Homo sapiens: one gene and its partner. The protein of the gene in region 1 purifies or fractionates together with the protein of each later gene. This does not show direct contact. Each region holds a gene or a part of one and is shown on either strand. Other genes may lie near its edges. The genes, in order: CIP2A and ALDH3A2.

Region 1 (9,525 bases):
TGTACATATATAATGTATACCTTAAGAGTGAACTTACTGCAGTAATATGAAATTCCCAGCAGATACAAATGGAATCTATACAACTTGATATTATTTATAATGAATGAATTATAATAAAGTGTTCCTGGCTTTTGAAAGATGCATCAAAATAAGTGACTAGTAAAATGCCTCTTAAGTCTCTTCAGAATAATGGTATTCTTTTTTTCCCCCATATTTCTTTCTTTTTTGCTTATTTTAACATGGTTTCATTTGTCTTAACTGGTATGTTGAATTTGTCACAAATTACAAGAAAGAACATTAGTGATATTAAAATAATTTTTCCCTCTCCCCATAGCACATTCTTATATTTTCTGTCTGTTGGACATGTCTTGTATTTTATTAGAGAGTTTAATATTTTATTCATGTTACTGGAAAAGTTCTTATAAAAATAGCACTAAATAACTGGATACAGGTTCTTCACAAAGTCGTAAAAACAGAGAAAGGCTTAGGGTTTTGTCTAGCATTGTAAAATAAAATCCAAAGGGCTGGGGGGAACCAACTTTTTATTCTAGCGACTTTTCTGCTTTTTTAGTGTTTCATATCACATAATAAATACATGCAGGTTATGGTATAGGTTACATTCTTTGATTATACTAGCTTAATTTTAAGTGTTTGATTAAGCATCTGTGATGTCGTTAAGATTTTGTTCTTAATTCTCACCTGAAATGAGAATGCTGATGGTGTGCACACTTAGCAGTTTAGTGTTAATGGCTACCTCTGAGGACCATACCTTTTTAATTGAATACTGTATGTAGCGCGACCTTCATGTTGCTGCAGTTGTATCCATTTCCATTAATTTGATCATAGTGAGATTGTTTTTATCAGATAATGTATTAAGTTAAAAAAATATAACAGTATCCAACTTATTAGAAGTAAAGTCCTAAGTATATGTGACTAATACAGCTTTGCATGACCCAACAGATACCAGCTTATTAGATACTTAGTAAACTTTTAAATTGTAGGTATGTGTTGAGCATATGATATAGATGATAGTGGTAAAGTCTATCTTCTTTTTTTTTTTGAGGCACGGACACTTGCTAGTATGTTGAGAGAAGTTGAGAGAAAAAATGAAGAGCTTAGTGTGTTGCTGAAGGCGCAGCAAGTTGAATCAGAAAGAGCGCAGAGTGATATTGAGCATCTCTTTCAACATAATAGGAAGTTAGAGTCTGTGGCTGAAGAACATGAAATACTGACAAAATCCTACATGGAACTTCTTCAGAGGTAAATAAAGTAAAATCTTCTGTGTAAGGTTAGAACCTAGAATGAACATGCAGCATTTCTTTTCTGAGACCCGAAAATCCTTTTGTAAGCATTTCATATATTCTGATAACACATGAGGTAAGTAATTAGCAAGAAACTTAAGTCATTGTGAAATGAAGTGTTGCTTCCTCAAACTCAGTATCAATGTTGGAAACAAAATACAGGTCTTTCCAGTTGACTTCTTTTATGTATTCATAACAGTCAGCAGTCATTTGGGAGATAAGCTCCACAAGGACAAGTTTGTCTGTTTTGATCACTGACAGATCCCTAGGGCCTGTAGGAGTGCTTGCTGCATAGTTAGGCACTTCATTAATAATTTTTAAATAAACTTAGTTGTCAAATTAGTATTAGGTTGAATGGTCATTTCTGCAGATCAAAAGTAGTTGAATATTGGCAATTTCATATCATTCTGCCTAATAGAATGGAAATTTAGGTGTAAGTGTTTAACTCATCTCTTAATATCCTTGATTATAGTTTACTTCCATGTGTGATTACATCTGTAGAATAAGTTCACATAGGTGAATTGCTAAGTTAAAGGGTATGTATATTTAATATTTTGATAGATATTTCTAAATTTTCCTCCAAAATGTGATACAGATTGAGTGTCCTTTTTGAACACAATGGTAGCACTCAAAAAGTTTAATATTTTGGAGCACTTTTGATTTTAGACTGATTTTGGATTTTCAAATTAGTGTTGCTCAACCTGTACCAATTTGTGTGCCTACTAGCAAAGTTTGATTGGTTTTTCCTCCCTTATAAACTCTTTTATCTTTTTAGGCCAGTTGTAAAACTTCTGAATTACAGGGAAGACCAGGAACAATTATGTATTTTCTACCAACCCATAAAAGTAAATACACTCTGGGGGAACTTGTTTATTGCTTTATATTTTAAGATTGTTCTATGTTGTTAATACAGAGATATAGAAATTTTTAGCTTGGCATGGTACATATGCTTATTTCCCATCAATAATAATGAAGGGTGAGAAATGAATAGTATCTAGAAAATGATGACAAAGTGATTTTTTAACAGGATATTTACCCCAGCAACTTTTTACAAAGTCTGATTGTTTGAGGCACCACTGATAAAGTGTAGTATTAGTGATAAGCCAAGTTGAGAACGTCAGCAGTGAAGAAAATACGTTATAGAACTGAAATGGGTTCCATTTGCTCAATACAGTAAAACCAGGTATCTGCACCAAGGTTTGCAGTGATAGAAAAAAAGGCTTTTACTGCAGGGTGCCAAGTAAGGAGGAGCAGGCAGCCAAATGCTCAAATACTGACCTCCCCAATAGCTTGCAAGCAAGGATTTTTAAAGGCGAGTAAATTTCAGGAAAGTGGAAGTTACAGACAAAAATCATAAATAAATAGTTAAAGGTTATACATTGGTTTAAGTTTAAAGGACAGGATATTGTGAAGCAGGGGCTTACAGGTCATGGGTAGACCCAAAGATTTTTCGATTTGCAGTTGGTTAAGGAAGAGCAGCTTTGTTTAAACATTTGGGGTCAGTAGAAAAATGTTAACTAGCTAGGGAGAGTGACTTTGTTCAAGACCCTGAGAAAGAAACTTAGAACAAAGAACAGTGGTTAAAATTCAGCCTTCATTTTCTCCTTACCTGAGCTCTACTTGTCAATGGATCTGGTCAGTGGGCTTCCTCAATGAGGGTCCGGGTCTCTGAAATACAACTCAGGGACATGTGTTAAGTTGTTTTCTTTAAGTTCTATAAAGAATCAAGTATCACTGGTACTCTTAAGTTTGTTAACTTTGATTTAGGCTACTATTACCTTCCTGTTTAACAAGTTACTTATTTACTTCTAGGGCTATCTAGGTCCCTGGAATTTCCCTTGAGTGAACTCAGGATTTTCCTTTATTTTCCAGCTTGAGGTCCTCAGACCTCCTAAAAAGGGGATACCTGCTTTGTCTCACATAGAGAACCTAAGAGATAGGCAGCGTCCAAGAAAAATACGTGGTTTCTAAGACCTGCTTATGTTCCAGCTAGTGATTTAGGGGCTAGAAGGTGAAATTCCTTGAATGGACAAGTGGATAACATGTAAATGAAGCTGGCTGGGGAAAAGGTCATTTGTAATGGTCAGGACTGTCTAAAGGCACTCAAACTCAGATTGTTAAAATTCCTGTATGGATTAGATACAAAAACTGCTGGCCAAGTTTGGCTACTGGTTTTTTTTGTTTGTTTTGGTTTGGTTTTTGGGTTGCTTTTTAAAAATCTTTGTGCTTAGTGAAATAAAAAAGACATTTTATGCTTATGGTAGTTGAGTATCAAAGTATTACTTTAGAAAGGATTTTTTTCTGTGTTTACCTTGCAGGTAAAATACTTAGGACTATTAGATGCAGAGTTTTAAAGAGACAAATGTAGAACCCTAAACTTATTTATAGCAAATTATGTAATGCAATATCATCTGTAAAATAAGGCTTTATATCCATAAATATGAGATTAATGCCCCACACATTTCTATTTCATAGTAATTTTTACCACATCAGTCAACCAAAACATGTATTTACTGCCTTTTAGAGTAGATGAAATTCTGTTTATGTCCTGCTTGTTCATAACATTCCTTCTCTTCCAGCATATGCAATTTGGTTAGAAGAGATAGTAAAGAAAACACTGTGAGCTTCTTTTCTCCTTCATATGTTTTCCTCCATAATGATGCCAACTCATTTTCTTGTCTTTTCAGAAATGAAAGTACTGAAAAGAAGAATAAAGATTTACAGATCACATGTGATTCTCTGAATAAACAAATTGAGACAGTGAAAAAGTTGAATGAGTCACTCAAGGAACAAAATGAAAAGTAAAATCTCTAGTTCTATATTCTGAATATGTGGGATTTTTCAAAAACAAAATGATTCCCTTTATATAGAACATTGTTTTTTATTGATAAAATTAATAGAATTGTCACTTATTTTAGATATAAGATATGTATTTGGTGGAAGTTACAGGCAATTGCTGTTCTTAGAAATTTTGTTTTAAAGGCTGGGCATGGTAGCTCACGCCTATAATCCCAGCACTTTGGGAGGCTGAGGTGGGTGGAGCGCATGAGGTCAGGAGTTTGAGACCAGCGTGGCCAACATGGCGAAACTCTGTAAATACTGAAAATACAAAAATTAGCTGGGTGTTGTGGCGGGTGCCTGTAATCTCCGCTACCCAGAAGGCTGAGGCAGGAGAATCACTTGAGCCCGGGAGGCAGAGGTTGCAGTGAGCACAAGATCATGCCACTGCACTCCAGCCTGGGTGACAGAACGAGACCTTTTTTTTTTTTTTTTTTTTTTTATATTTTTAGTAGAGACGGGGTTTCACCATGTTAGCCAGGATGGTCTCGATCTCCTGACCTTGTGATCTGCCCGCCTTGGCCTCCCAAAGTGCTTGGTAGGGAGAAAAAGTTACAAATGGTATATGGTTCATTAATGTTTTCTTCTATTTTTTTTAATAACTTCAGAAGTATTGCCCAATTAATAGAGAAAGAAGAACAGAGAAAAGAAGTACAGAATCAGCTAGTAGACAGAGAACATAAGCTAGCAAGTAAGTGGCTTCTTATTTAATACATTTTCTATTTTTAATGTATTTATTTTGGAAGCATGAGTGGTTTTGTTTGCTTTTTTATTTTCTACTTATTGTTTTAAACTTTAAATCATATTTGGAATGGCTTCCCTTTTCTTGACATAATGTTTCACAAAAGCAGTTCGGTTTAATCAAGTTGAAAAAGTGGTACGTTTTTTAAATTTAGGAGCTATAAGAAATTGGCCAGGCACAGTGGCTCACTCCTGTAATCCCAGCACTTTGGGAGTTGGAGATGGGTAGATTGCTTGAGCTCAGGAGTTTGAGACCAGCCTGAGCAACATGGTGAAACCCCATCTCTACAAAAAATACAAAAATTTAGCCAGGTGTGTTAGTGTGCACCTGTAGTTCCAGCTACTCAGGAAGCTACAGTGGGAGAATCTCTTGAACCTGGATGTCAAGGCTGCAGTGAGCTATGTTCACGCCACTGCACTCCAACCTGGGTGACAAAGCAAGACTGTCTCAAAAAAAAAAAAAAAAAAAAAAAAAACAAAAGGAAAGAGATGATTGACCATTTAATTTAATTTAATTTTTTTATTATTTCAACTTTTAGAATCAGGGGGCATGTGTGCAGGTCTGTTACACTGGGTATATTGCATGACACGGATGTTTGGGGTATGGATCTCATCACCCAGGTAGTAAGCATAGTACCAAATAGGTAGCAATAGGTAATTTTCAACCTCCTGCCAACTCTAGTCTGCAGTGTCTATTGGTTCCATCTTTAAGTCTGTGTGTACTCAATGTTTAGTTCCCACTTAGAAGTGAAAACTTGGAGTATTTGGTTTTCTGTTCCTTCGTTAAATCACATAGGATTATGGATTGCCCTTTTCAAAATAAAAAAATGTTGAAGGAACGTAACAGCAGGTGGCAGTATTAGGTAACTTTTAGTTACTAGCTTCTTAATGGTATATTTGAAATGATCCTGAAAAACATTTTTGTTCTCACTTGCCTTAGAGCGCAGGCACCTACCTATATAATTTTTCATAGTTGTAGCTCTCCCTTTTCTAACCCTTACACTTTTGAGAATTGTCCTTTACCTATATAGCATATTATATTTAGAACAGAGGATGGAAGAAAGACATGGAGATTTGGTATTTTCTATAGAATACTGTCATAAGAGAAGTTTCTCTTCCTTGTTCTAGTTATTTCTCTTTTGCTCTTACAGTAGCTACTAGACCATTTCAGAGTAGTCAGTGTAAGACCTCTGAGTATAATACTTGACTTTTTTTTCTTTTAAGATTTGCATCAAAAAACAAAAGTACAAGAAGAAAAGATTAAAACCTTACAAAAGGAAAGGGAAGATAAGGAAGAAACCATTGATATCCTTAGAAAAGAATTAAGCAGAACAGAACAGATAAGAAAAGAGTTGAGCATTAAGGTAAGAATCTGTTCCATTTCTCATTTGCAGTAAAATAAAAAAGTCTGTTGTGAAAAGGGTGAATATGGATAAAGGAATGTACTGTTTCTTCAGCAAATTTTTTAGAAGATATTAGGATCTCAAAGCAGCTTGAGTATCATTTGTTATGAGGTTTTCATAATGTATTTTCTAAAATAGTTAAGCAGTTATTAAACAGATACTTTGTGTCAGCACCTGGTATTTTCAAGTGTGCAAAGAATACAGAAAGGGGTTACCAGTACTTGATGTCATATATAGGTAGCTGTATAATTTTCACTTTAACAAATATTATATAATGTGTTAATAAATATTTTCAACTTACAACTGAAGAAACTGAGTCTGAGGTTACTTACTAAAGTCACACAGCTAATAAGTGAATCAATAGGTATATATTCTGAATCTGAGTCCGGGGTTCTTTCTATATTACCATGGTTGCATAGCTTGAGTGGTAGCTATGAATTGTACTTTCTGGCCCGTTTACTACCAGGAAGATGAGAACAGACTAGGATTAAAGACTGATCTACTACTACTACTGAGTAACAGAAGAGGCATAAAATTTAGTACCACATTTACAGTTTTTCTGGTTCTGCTTTAATGTGATTATCTTATTAGTAATTTTAATATGTAGTGTGTAGTATTTTCTGCAAAATTTCAGCTGCTGGCATTAACTTAAGACAAGTTGAAAGTGTATTCTCAATTTGTATTATATTGTTTAATGATTATTCATTTTAAACTTACCATGTAATTGAATTAACTGAAGTATAATATTTATAGTATGTCTTGAAATGGTTGTTGTACAATAAAAAATAAAAGCATCTTAAAATATATGTATAGAGAAAACATTAAAGTTATTTTTCTTCTCAATTCTTCCTCCTCCCCCAACCCCAATTCCTTAGGCTTCCTCCCTAGAGGTTCAAAAGGCACAATTAGAAGGTCGTTTGGAAGAGAAAGAGTCCTTGGTGAAACTTCAGCAAGAGGAATTGAACAAACACTCCCACATGATAGCAATGATCCACAGTTTAAGTGGTGGAAAAATAAATCCAGAAACTGTGAATCTCAGTATATAGACATTATGGCATTTTGGAATTTGTAATCTCATGATATTTTTGATGTATTTATCTATTGGAGGGGGGGTGGGTAGGGGAGTTAATTTGTGACTTCGTAACAATAAGAAGTTATTATCTAATTTAGTAAAGACCCTGATCTGTTGCATGTTTTTTATTTGATAGTTTGAATAGAAATTTAATTTTCTAAGTTTTACTTTTTGTTTCTGGCTTTTATGGCTTAAGGTTTTCTTTGGTTCTTACATTAGAAAATCATTTTTAACCTCCATTATCATTTTTCTAAGGTTCTTTCCTTTTTCTTAGTTGCTTTCTATTCTGTTTTGCCTGTCTTATTTATTCTCATTTGTGATTATTTAGATCTTAAGACCAAACTTTCTTGGTATAACAGTCCTAAAGATTACAAAATAAAAATATAGAGAGAGTAAAAGTAAAAAGTAAAGTAAAAAGAGAGAAGGTATGATTTTACTGCTAGAGAAGTTTGTCTCTGAAGAAGCACAAAAGAAAATATTAGTGAATTTAAAATAATTTTTATACTGCTGTAGCATAATTTCTAAATTTGAAAAAAATGCAATGGTAATAAAATGTATAAAAATTAGAAAACTGTCATTGTGTTAAACTATTACATTTAAATGATTACATTTAACACAATAGCTGTCTCATAAAAAATCTAAGAACTTGTAGAATTATTTGTAAGGTATATTTAGTGTTTTTTTCTCTTTTTTCAAATGTTGCATAGTGGTCCAGATCATCTATAATTAATTATAAGTTTCTTATGATTTACATAAGGATAATTTGGATTCTACTCTTGCTGCATATTCAGAAAAATATTATTTACTGTTAATTCTGATATGAATTGTATTTAATTTGTTGTCCTAATAGTTTTTAATTGGTTCATTTAATTTTAAAGCATAGGTTAAATATCTTTATTTTTTTTAAAATACAAGGGTCCTTCTGTACTTTTCATTTGAATCATATCCTCTAACTACTCTGTAAGAAACGTTTTTACATCAATATTTTGATTGATTTTATTGCTATACCAATACAGTCATTAATTTTACTTGGTGTTTTCTTCACCATATGTCTGTTTGATTTAAGTGAATTTAGATTTGTACAGTTCTGGAAATTTTTTAAAAAATATTATGCAGAGTAAAACATTTTAAATTACTATTTGTTCTATAGAGGAGATACATTCTGTTTCTCTTTTGAAATTGCATGCATTTTCAACCAAATATGAAAAAGTTTAAGTGGATAGATAAGACTGAAGAATAAAAGGGTCTATAAAATAAAAGAGACAAAACGTTAAAGAAAGAAATGAATGAATGAACCAAAAATTCTAGGGAAAATCAATTTATCTTTCCAATTTAGACATCTTGAGACAGCCTAGCCTAGTGCTACCCTATACAATTTTCTGTGATAATGACAGTGTTCTATGATGTCCAGTCCCATAGCCAGTGGCTAAAAGTGGCCATTGAGCACTTGAAATTTGGCCTTTGCAACTGAAAAAACTAAATTTTTGATTTTATTAAATTTAATTTTGATAACCATCCTGTTAGATAATGCAGATCTGTCCCATTCTCACAAGTATGTGTTTAAAGAACTCAATTTGCCTTTTCTTAAAGATCTATATAAATAATTACCCCATTATATATATGTAGTAGCCCTTTCTTAATGTAATTTTAACCTGTTTATTTCTAATCTTCTCTCCCTAAAGAAGAAAGTCCGTACTGCAGCTTTGAAGAAGGTGAGTACTAATCATCATCCTTCATCTCTTTCTGTCTCTTGTAACACCTTTCATATTGTTTCTGTTGTTTTTCTGAGTGCCTTTACTATATCAGTTACTTTTTTTTTCTTGTTGGACTGTGTACCTCATATTAAAAAAGCAAAAGTGTGTGTAAATATTTTTTTTCTAAAAAAAAAAATTTAATCAAATTTGAACCACCACCATAGTCAGGGTTTTGTATGTGTGTATGCATGTCCATTTCCTAATGGAAAAAACAAAACTTAGGAAGTGCATCATTATATTAGGATTACTCGCATCCTCTTAAAATTTTGCTGGGGAGAGTTTGTCTCCAAAGTATACATTAACACAGTTCCGTTACTATTTACACTTGCCACTTGAACAAATAGACACATCTCATAAAATTTGGTTGGTTAAAGTTTATATTAAATTGTTCATTAATTTAATGTCAGGAAAAAAAG
Region 2 (9,525 bases), on another chromosome or scaffold:
CCTGCCTCTCCCACATGTGAGATGACTGACTCAGCTTTTTATTTCTCCTTTGGGACCTAGGCTAGGTGGGCTTTTCTACTCTCTACTAGAGCTATTACAAAATAGCCGATATGTAAACATTCTCATAACAAAAACCCAACCAGAAAAGCCACTGTCTTAAAGCCCTGTTCTATCCTCTCCCTTTGTAATACCGTCCTAAGTCAGTTGCTCCATGGGATGCGATGGCCCAGTTTGGCAGGACCATCTGTTCCTGGTTAAGGAAACCTTGTCCTATGACCAAGGAGCCTTGACCTATATAGCCACAGGTCCTTGTCTAGGAGGTAAACATATTGCCAGCACCCAGCACAGTGACTGACATGAGTGAGGGACAGGCGGGAAGAGGCCAATTGGTAGGTATTGCCAGATCCAAATTGGAAATGGTGGTGGCTTGTAGAGGGTGGTAGCAGGGGAGATAGTGGAAAGGGAAGGGGGTATTTTTGGGATCAAGCAGCAGGATTGGCTGATGGAGTGAATGTTGGAGGAGGGGGTGAATGAGAGAGGATGACTCCTGGGATTTTGGCTGGAGTAAGTAATAGTTTTGTAGCCCAAATGCTTAAAAGATTGGACTCTGTTGTCTCTGTTCCTCAGCTCACCACATAGGATCCTGGCATCCACTGTGCTAGTGCAGTAATCAACTCGGTAATTGTTCCATATGGTGTCTCCACTGCCCTCTAATTGCAAATCTAAGTGACTTGGGTTCAGTCCCTGTCCTACTTGACAAGATAGCCTGTGGCATCATTGACTATACCATCTTATTTAAAACAAAACAAGGCTGGGCGCAGTGGCTCATGCCTGTAATCCCAGCACTTTGGGAGGCCGAGGTGGGTGGATCACTTGAGGTCAGGAGTTCCAGACCAGCCTGGCCAACATGGTGAAACCCCATCTCTACTAAAAATACAAATGTTAGCTGGGTGTGGTGGTGCGTGCCTGTAGTCCCAGCTACCAGGGAGGCTGAGGCAGGAGAATTGCTTGAACCAGGGAGGTGGAGGTTGCAGTGAGCTGAGATTGCGCCACTGCACTCAAACCTGGCAAACAGAGCGAGACTCCGATCTCAAAATAAATAAATAAATAAATAAATAAATAAATAAATAAAAATAATAAAATAAAACAAGCAACCTATTATATACCCACAAAAATTAAAAATACAAAAAGAAGATGCAAAAGAAAAAAACAGGTTTACTCTCTTAGCAAATTTCAGGCATATAATACATTATTATAGTGGCCATGCTGTAAAAAAATAAAAATAAAAAATAAAAACAAGCCTTGACCCCCAAATGTAAAAAGAATACAGGCTTTTTAAGAAAACTTGGAAAAGATAGAAGAGCCCAAAGAATAAACATTTATATTACCCATAACCCCACTATGTAAAGATAACTGGTATATGTCTTGCACACATATGCACACACATATACACGGTCATCTGAATATTCTATTCAAAAAGGTATCATACTATATATTGTTCTGTACCCTGTATGTGACAGAATAGTGTGACACTTTTCCATGTCAATATTCTTGCATGTCATAATTTTAGTAGCTGCATACTTTTCCATCATATGAATGTGGCATATTTATGTAACCAATTCCCAGTATTAGATTTTTGTGATTTCAATTTTTTTGGTATTACGATTCTTATATAATGTATCTTTATGCAATCTCTGATTATTTCTTTAGGAAAAATGTCTACAAGTGTAATTACTCTGTTAAAAGGGCTTATACAATTTTCCAAATTGAAAAAAATGCTTTTTTCTTCTAATTCTCAAAGTAATATAGACACAGTGGCAAAAAGTCTAAACAGTTAAACTTTTTAATATTTTGGCATATAGTTTAGATTTTTCTTTTTTTTTTCTTTTTATCGAGACTGAGACTCCCTGTCACCTAAGCTGGAGTGCAGTGGTGTGATCTCAGCTCATTGCAACCTCCAACTCCTGGGTTCTAGCAATTCTCCTGGCTCAGCCTCCCAAGTAGCTGGAACTACAGGTGTGTGCCACCAGGCCCAGCTAATTTTTGTATTTTTAGTAGAGACACGGTTTTGCCATGTTAGCCAGCCTGGTCTCAAACTCCTGGGCTCAAGAGATCCACTTGCCTTGGCCTCCCAAAGTGCTGGGATTACAGGTGTGAGCCATCGCACCCAGCCTAGGTTTTTCTTTAGAAATGCTTCTCTTTAAGACTTTTGATAGATATTTCAAGTGTCTTTGCAGATTTCTGCCACTTTATATTCCCATGATCAGTATATGAGTGTTTACTTCCTTATATCCCCAATTCTGGATTATTCCATTATTAAATTTCTAGACAGAAAAGGGTCTCATTTCAATTTGTACTCCTTTGATTATTAGTGAGTTTGAATTTTTTTTACCACTCTCATGAATTTTCTATTTATGTCCTTTGATATTTTTGCTGTGTTCACATCTTCCTTATTATTGGTATATAAATAGCCTTTTTTATAAGTAAGAAAATCCTCAGTCCTATCTGTAATACATATCCCTTTCCAGATTTTAATTTTTCTTTTAATTTTATCTATGATTTGAAGCGTTTATTTATTTAGAGACAGAGTCTCACTCTGTCACCCAGGGTGGAGTGCAATGGCGCGACCTCGGTTCATTGCAACCTCTGACTCCTGGCTTCAAGCAATTCTCCTGCCCCAACCTCCCAAGTAGCTGGGATTACAGGCACCCGACACCACTCCTACCTAATTTTTGTAGTTTTAGTAGAGATGGGGTCTCACCATGTTGGCCAGGCTGGTCCTCAACTCCTGATCTCAGGTGATCCACCTGCCTTAGCCTCCCAAAGTGCTGGGATTACAGGCATGAGCCACCACATCTGGCCTAAGCCTGTGTGGCTTTTTGTTTTTTGGTTTCCGATTTGGAAAGTAGGCTTAGAAAAGCTTTCCCTATTTCATTATTATATAAATATCATCTGTAGGCTGGGTGCGGTTGCACACACCTGTAATCCCAGCACTTGGGGAGGCCAAGGCACCTGGCTAACATGGTGAAACCCCGTCTCTACTAAAAATACAAAAAATTAGCTGGGTGTGGCGGCACCACCTGTAATCCCAGCTACTTAGGAGGCTGAGGCAGTAGAATCACTTGAACCCTGGAGGCGGAGGTTGCAGTGAGCAGAGAGTGCACCACTGTACCTCCAGCTTGGGCAACAGAGCGAGACTCTGTCTCAAAAAAATAAGAATAAAATAAATAAATAATTAAATATTATCTGTAGTTTCCTTCCCTCCCTCCCTCCTTTTCTTCTTTTCTTTTCTTTTTTCTTTTCTTTTCTTTCCATTTAACCATGGAGTTGGCCAAGCATGGTGGCTCACACCTATAATCCCAGCACTTTGGGAGGCCGAGGCAGGTAGATCACCCGAGGTCAGAATCTTGAGACCAGCCTGGCCAACATGGTGAAAACTCATCTCCACAAAAAATACAAAAAAAAAAATTAGCTGGGCATTGTGGCATGCACATGTAGTCCCAGCTACTTGGGAGGCTGAGGCAGAAGAATCGCTTGAACCTGGGAGGCGGAGGCTGCAGTGAGCCAAGATCATGCCACTGCACTCCAGCCTGGGCAACAGAGCGAGACTCCATCTCAAAAAAACAAACAAACAAAAAAAACACCCTGGAGTTCACTTTAGAATGCCATACGCTGCATGATGTAATAATTTACCTTTTTTTTCCCAAAGAGTAAACTATGCTGGCACCATTTTTTGAAATAATCATCCTTATACCATCAGTACTCAATAAAAACACGTTTGGGTCATTCTTAGGGTTTTCTCATTGGTTGCATTATCTTTCTGGTTTGTTTTTTCCGTGGGCCAGTACCACAGTTTCAATTACAGTAGTTGTACAGTTAGCTTTATAAGTGACATTTAGTAAGTGCTTATTGTATGCCAGGTACTGCGGTTGAATCCACGCCTTTTCTTTTCTTTTTTTTCTTGTTTGAGATAGGGTCTCACTCTGTCACCCAAGCCAGAGTACAGTGGTGCAATCACGGCTCATTGCAGCCTCAACCTCTTAGGCTCAAACAATCTTCCCGCCTCAGCCTCCTGAATAGCTGGGATTACAAGGGTGCACCACCATGCCTGGCTAATTAAAAAAATTTTTTTTGTATAGAGGCGGGGTCTCACTGTGTTGCCCAGGCTGGTCTTGAATTCCTGGGCTCAAGCAATCCTCCCACCTCAGCCTCCCAACGTGCTGGGATTACAGGTGTGAGCCACCGTGCCCGGTCAAATGCACGCATTTTAGAGACAGACAACTAATAAGTAGTAAAGCCAAGAAATGAGCCAAAGTTGTCTGGCTCCAAAACCCACATATTCAACCAATCCAGTAGTTTGCTCTTTAGGACACAGTACTATTTCAATACCTAAAAGTAAAAGCTCCTCATTATTACTGTTTTTCGATGTTTTCTTGCTTGTTCTTATCTAAATTTATTTTTCCAGATGATCTTTGGAATCACTACCTCCTCCTACTTAAAACAAACAAACAAAACCTTCCGAAATCCCCTAGGATTTTTATTAAAATTGATTTAAACTTAAATTATTTTGGGAAGAATTTATATCTTTAAAATGTGGAGTCTTAATGGGAATATGTTATATCATCTCTTCATTTATATAGCCCTTTTATATCTTTCAACAAAACTTTGTAATTTCCTTCATGTCAGTTTTTTGCTTTTTATTTATTTTTTGAGACAGGGTCTCACTCTGTTGACCAGGCTGGAATGCAGTGTGGCACAATCATAGCTCACTGCAACTTTGAACTCCTGGGCTCAAGCAATCCTCCTGCATCAGCCTCCCAAATTTTTCCCAGTTTCTTACTACCTTGGTTATGTCTTTGGCTCGCCCCTCCCTTATTCTTTTTTTTTTTTTTTTTGAGACGGAGTCTCGCTCTGTCGCCCAGGCTGGAGTGCAGTGGCGCGATCTCAGCTCACTGCAACCTCCGCCTCCCAGGTTCAAGCAATTCTCCTACCTCAGCCTCCCAGGTAGCTGGGACTACAGGCGTGCGCCACCACGTCCAACTAATTTTTGTATTTTTAGTAGAGACGGGATTTAACGATGTTGGCCAGGATGGTCTTGATCTCTTGACCTTGTGATCCACCCGCCTTGGCCTCCCAAAGTGCTGGGATTACAGGCGTGAGCCACCGCACCCGGCCCCCTCCCTCATTCTTTACCCTCCCTCAGAGTTAGGGTTTCTCATGGTCTTGTCCTTGGGTCTCTTCTCACACCAGGCCTGCTTCATGAATGATTCCTTCCTGCAGCCTGGCCTTGGTAAACTGCTCCCTGGCCTCTGGTCACCTGTGTCTTATATCACACATGCCATTCCCTCTGCCCAGCTCACACTGCTCCGCTTTGTGCCTGTCAGTCTGTTGTACACACAATGAATTAGAGAAATGAAACTGTCACAGAGCATGGCTTTGTGGAGGGCAGAGATTTACACTTGCTTATTATCATCCAGCTGTGCAACCTTGTTGCCCTGTCTTACTTTCCACAGGCTTTGAGAAAGCAAGTGGGTGTGTGGGGCCATGGATGAATGAAGCCACATGGGATGGTGGGAAGAGAGCACATATAGCATTTAGAGTCTGATCCAGGTTCGGGTTCTGGCTTTGCCACTTAGCAGCCGTGTGACCCTGGGCAGGTTAACTGACCCTGTAAGCTCCCTTTCCCTCTCTGGAAATGAGGCTGCTGATAATTCACCAAGTGGGATTGTGGTGAGAATTATCTTAAGAGAATGATTTAACTCTTAGCACAGTCCCTGGCATAAATGAGAGCCACAGCTCTAGAAGAGGTGCAAGTCCTTGTCTTGCTCATGGAAAGCATCCTGTTTGACAGGGAAATTGACTTTTCCAGGGAAGTTGGTAAGGACTTCCTGAAAAGAGATACTTCAGCTGGCAGAGATGTTCAGTGGGGTTCCCAGGCAGCAGGGAGTGCATGTGAGCTTTCCCGGTCGTTGTTAGACAGAAGTAGCTTGCATCATCTACAGTGAAGCTTGTTTTGTCTGTTCCCTTTATTTCAGGTTCCAGTGGGATGGGAGCTTATCACGGAAAACATAGTTTTGATACTTTTTCTCATCAGCGTCCCTGTTTATTAAAAAGTTTAAAGAGAGAAGGTGCTAACAAACTCAGATATCCTCCCAACAGCCAGTCAAAGGTGGATTGGGGAAAATTTTTTCTCTTGAAACGGTTCAACAAAGAAAAACTCGGTCTCCTGTTGCTCACTTTCCTGGGTATTGTAGCCGCTGTGCTTGTCAAGGTGAGTCCCTATAACCCATGAGTGCCATTCAGTCTGGTCCTGGCCTGATGGCTGCCAGATGCATATTCTAGCAGGACTCTACATTAACTTGTAGAGTCTAAGACAGGGTCAGTGAACCACAGCCTGCTGGCCAGCTACCCGTTTTTGTCACTGAAGTTATTGGAACACAGCCACACCCACTTGTTTAATCATCCACAGCTGCTTTCATGGGACAGTGACAGAGCTGAGTAGTTGCAACAGAGGCTGAATGGCCCTCAGAGCCTAAATTATTACAGAAAAGTTTGCTGATCTCTGGTCTAAGAGATTAAAACAGCGTAGAACTTGATTGCAGAATTCTGAGCTGTCTGATCAAAGGGTTAGCCCTTTGATCCTTTTGGTATTGGACTTTCCTTGTCACTTACAGCTTTGTTCTTGAATGTGCATGAAATCAGCTTACCACAGAGGTGAAGGCAAGAACTCTGGTACAACAGCTTTGGTGAGGGATATTTTATTAGGCTTGAGTTTTTTTCCTCCAAAGTTCACTACCTGATAAAGTTTATCTTTGGTGATTAGTCATTATAGGGATGGGCTTGCAAAGAGGCCCTCATGATAGCTGCCTTCTCAAAGCAGTTTGCGTATTTTGAGATGAAAGAGGAAATCCGTAATTAAAGTTAAGATGGAATGAGGAAGGCAATTGTGTCTGTGGTGCCCTCAGCCGTTCAACTGAGGATATAACATTGAAAATATTGACCATATCAGTGAAGAATGGGCTTGGAAAAGGCAATGGTAATAGTTGTGTTTATGTTTTGTTTAAAATTTGAAAGGGGGCCGGCGCAGTGGCTCACACCTGTAATCCTAGCACTTCGGGAGGCTGAGGCAGGGGAATCACGAGGTCAGGAGTTCAAGACCAGCCTGACCAATATGGTGAAACCCTGTCTCTACTAAAAATACAAAAATTAGCCAGGCATGGTGGCACGCACCTGTAGTCCCAGCTACTCGGGAGGCTGAGGGAGGAGAATCACTTGAACCCGGGAGGTGGAGGTTGCAGTGAGCCAAGATCATGCCACTGCACTCCAGCCTGGGCAATAGAGCGAGACTCCATCTCAACAACAACAACAACAAAAATTTGAAAGGGGTTTGGCTCATCTTACAGTATCCCAGCCTTAGTGGAATTGGAGATACCAGTTGCATTTGAAATCATTTGGGTTTTCTCAGAAATACCAAGCTGTGCTGAGGAGAAAGGCCCTGTTGATTTTTCTGGTAGTTCACAGACTGCGTTGGTCCAGTAAGCAGAGATGAACACCAGATTTCAAAACCCAGCCCTGTCTGTTAAGAGTGAGGTAGGAACTTTTTGTTTTCTTTCTATATGTAAGGTGGGCCAAGTTGGGGTATGTTTTCAAGGGTTTTTTGGTTTGTTTTTGTTTTTGTTTTTGTTTTTGTTTTTATTTTTGTTTTTTTTTTGCTACAGTTGGAGGCTTAAGGGTTATTGAAAAAAGAATGGGCCGGGCGCAGTGGCTCACGCCTGTAATCCTAGCACTTTGGGAGGCCAAGGCAGGTGGATTGCCTGAGTTCCGGAGTTCGAGAACAGCCTGGCCAACATGGTGAAACCCCATCTCTACTAAAAATACAAACGTTAGCTGGGTGTGGTGGTACGTGACTGTAGTCCCAGCTACTAGGGAGGCTGAGGCAGGAGAATTGCTTTAACCCGGGAGGCAGAGGTTGCAGTGAGCCAAGATTGTGCCACTGCACTCCACCCTGGGTGACAGAGCAAGACTCCGTCTCCAAAAAAAAAGAAAGAAAAAAGAATGTTTAACTTACTTATCTCTAGACATTTTGGACCTGGGCCCAGAGTATCAGGGTGTTAAAACTCCACTTATCCACAATTTTAAAAGGGTGAAGTGACTTGCTAGGAATCTAAGAGAAGTGTGCAGAGGCAATGGCTTAGCTGCGTCCAGGTGAAGCATACATCATTTCTTGGAAAAGGGCAGCTGAGTGTGAGCCTCATTTCTCTTCCCCTTCTACTCAGCTCTCCTGGGGGAGGTGCCAGCTGACTAATTCAGACTTGTCACCATCTAGGCACTGAACTCTTTATGTCATAATTTAAGAATATGTTTTTTAAATCACTAAGTAGTTTTGATTTGTTTTCATTTTTAAAAAAAGGTTTGACTTTGGAATTCATGGCAGCAAATGTCGTGAAATCAAGGTGTAGTATACAATTTAGGGGCTACTTTCTTTGCCTTCCTGAGGCTGGAGGTGTGGTCGGAAGCTTACTTGGGTCTCTGGTCAATATCTGTCTCTTTTGTTCTTTTCCCAAGACCTCGGTTCCTCAGTTTGATAATGCATCTTGGTAGGATAGAATATTTTAGCCTCATGGAAAATACGGAGGCCCAGGCTGAGTCTGCATTCTCCAATCTTACCAAACCCCCAAGAAGCCTCCCTCAGGTGCAGTGCAGTGTGCCAGGCAGGTTCGAGTTCCCAAAGGGTTTGGCAGGCATGTTTCTCTGTGAGGGTCTAGAGAAGCAGCAATATATAAAAGAAGCAGCAATATATAAAACCTTTAGCAGAAACAAAAAAATGTGGTTTGATTCCTGGCTCAATGAACTTGGGCAAGGCCTTTTCTGAGCTCTTTCTTGGGCCTCAGCTTGCTCATCTACAGGGTGAGGGAGTAGGTGTCAGTGATTCCCCAGGCCACTTTCAACCCTTCCGCTCAATTCTCATTACTAATAGTTGTTAATATTTCTTTGGATTCAATCTGGAACTAGGTAGAGATTTGGTTTTCTTTTCCACTTTGCTGCTTTTCTGCTCCTTTCTGAGCTTTTAATCCTCTTTTTATCAAATTACCTTTTATTTAAAATAAATGACTTTGAATCTGTACTGTATATTTACCTGAATAGTCTATTTATTGTAATTACATTTTTCTGAAATGGCTTTTATGTACTTAATAGTTTCCTTATTTTGTTACACTCTTGGATTTTATTTTATTAATTACCTTACTAGAATTAGAAGGGATTTAGAGCAGAAGTATTGTACACAAAGTAAAGTTCCAATAAAGCTTATAAGCTACAGAAGGCATTGTGGGAGATGTGGGTTTTAAAAGGTCGAGAAACATAAGAGGTTAATGTTGATAAATTTCATTAGGCCTTTGACAACTAAATATGACATTTGAACCTTGAGATTGCAGCAGCCCTTCCTCAGTCTTCAATAGGAAGGATTAAATTCAGTACTACTTTTGAATTTTAGAAACAAAATTGTATACCAGTTTTTGAATTCCATGT

The links.
Region 2: the proteins of CIP2A (region 1) and ALDH3A2 purify together in Homo sapiens (affinity purification with mass spectrometry; 3 studies listed by BioGRID and IntAct, with this or other methods). This does not show direct contact.

The regions. Positions count from the first base shown.
Region 1 is NC_000003.12:108,548,953-108,558,477, reverse strand, and holds the end of CIP2A (protein CIP2A), read left to right. Parts: intron 1-1,063; coding exon 1,064-1,260; intron 1,261-3,988; coding exon 3,989-4,102; intron 4,103-4,747; coding exon 4,748-4,830; intron 4,831-6,104; coding exon 6,105-6,244; intron 6,245-7,158; coding exon 7,159-7,329; 3' UTR 7,330-8,614; downstream 8,615-9,525.
Region 2 is NC_000017.11:19,665,686-19,675,210, forward strand, and holds part of ALDH3A2 (aldehyde dehydrogenase family 3 member A2), read left to right. Parts: intron 1-6,035; coding exon 6,036-6,271; intron 6,272-7,465; coding exon of another isoform or gene 7,466-7,549; exon of another isoform or gene 7,550-7,590; intron 7,591-9,525.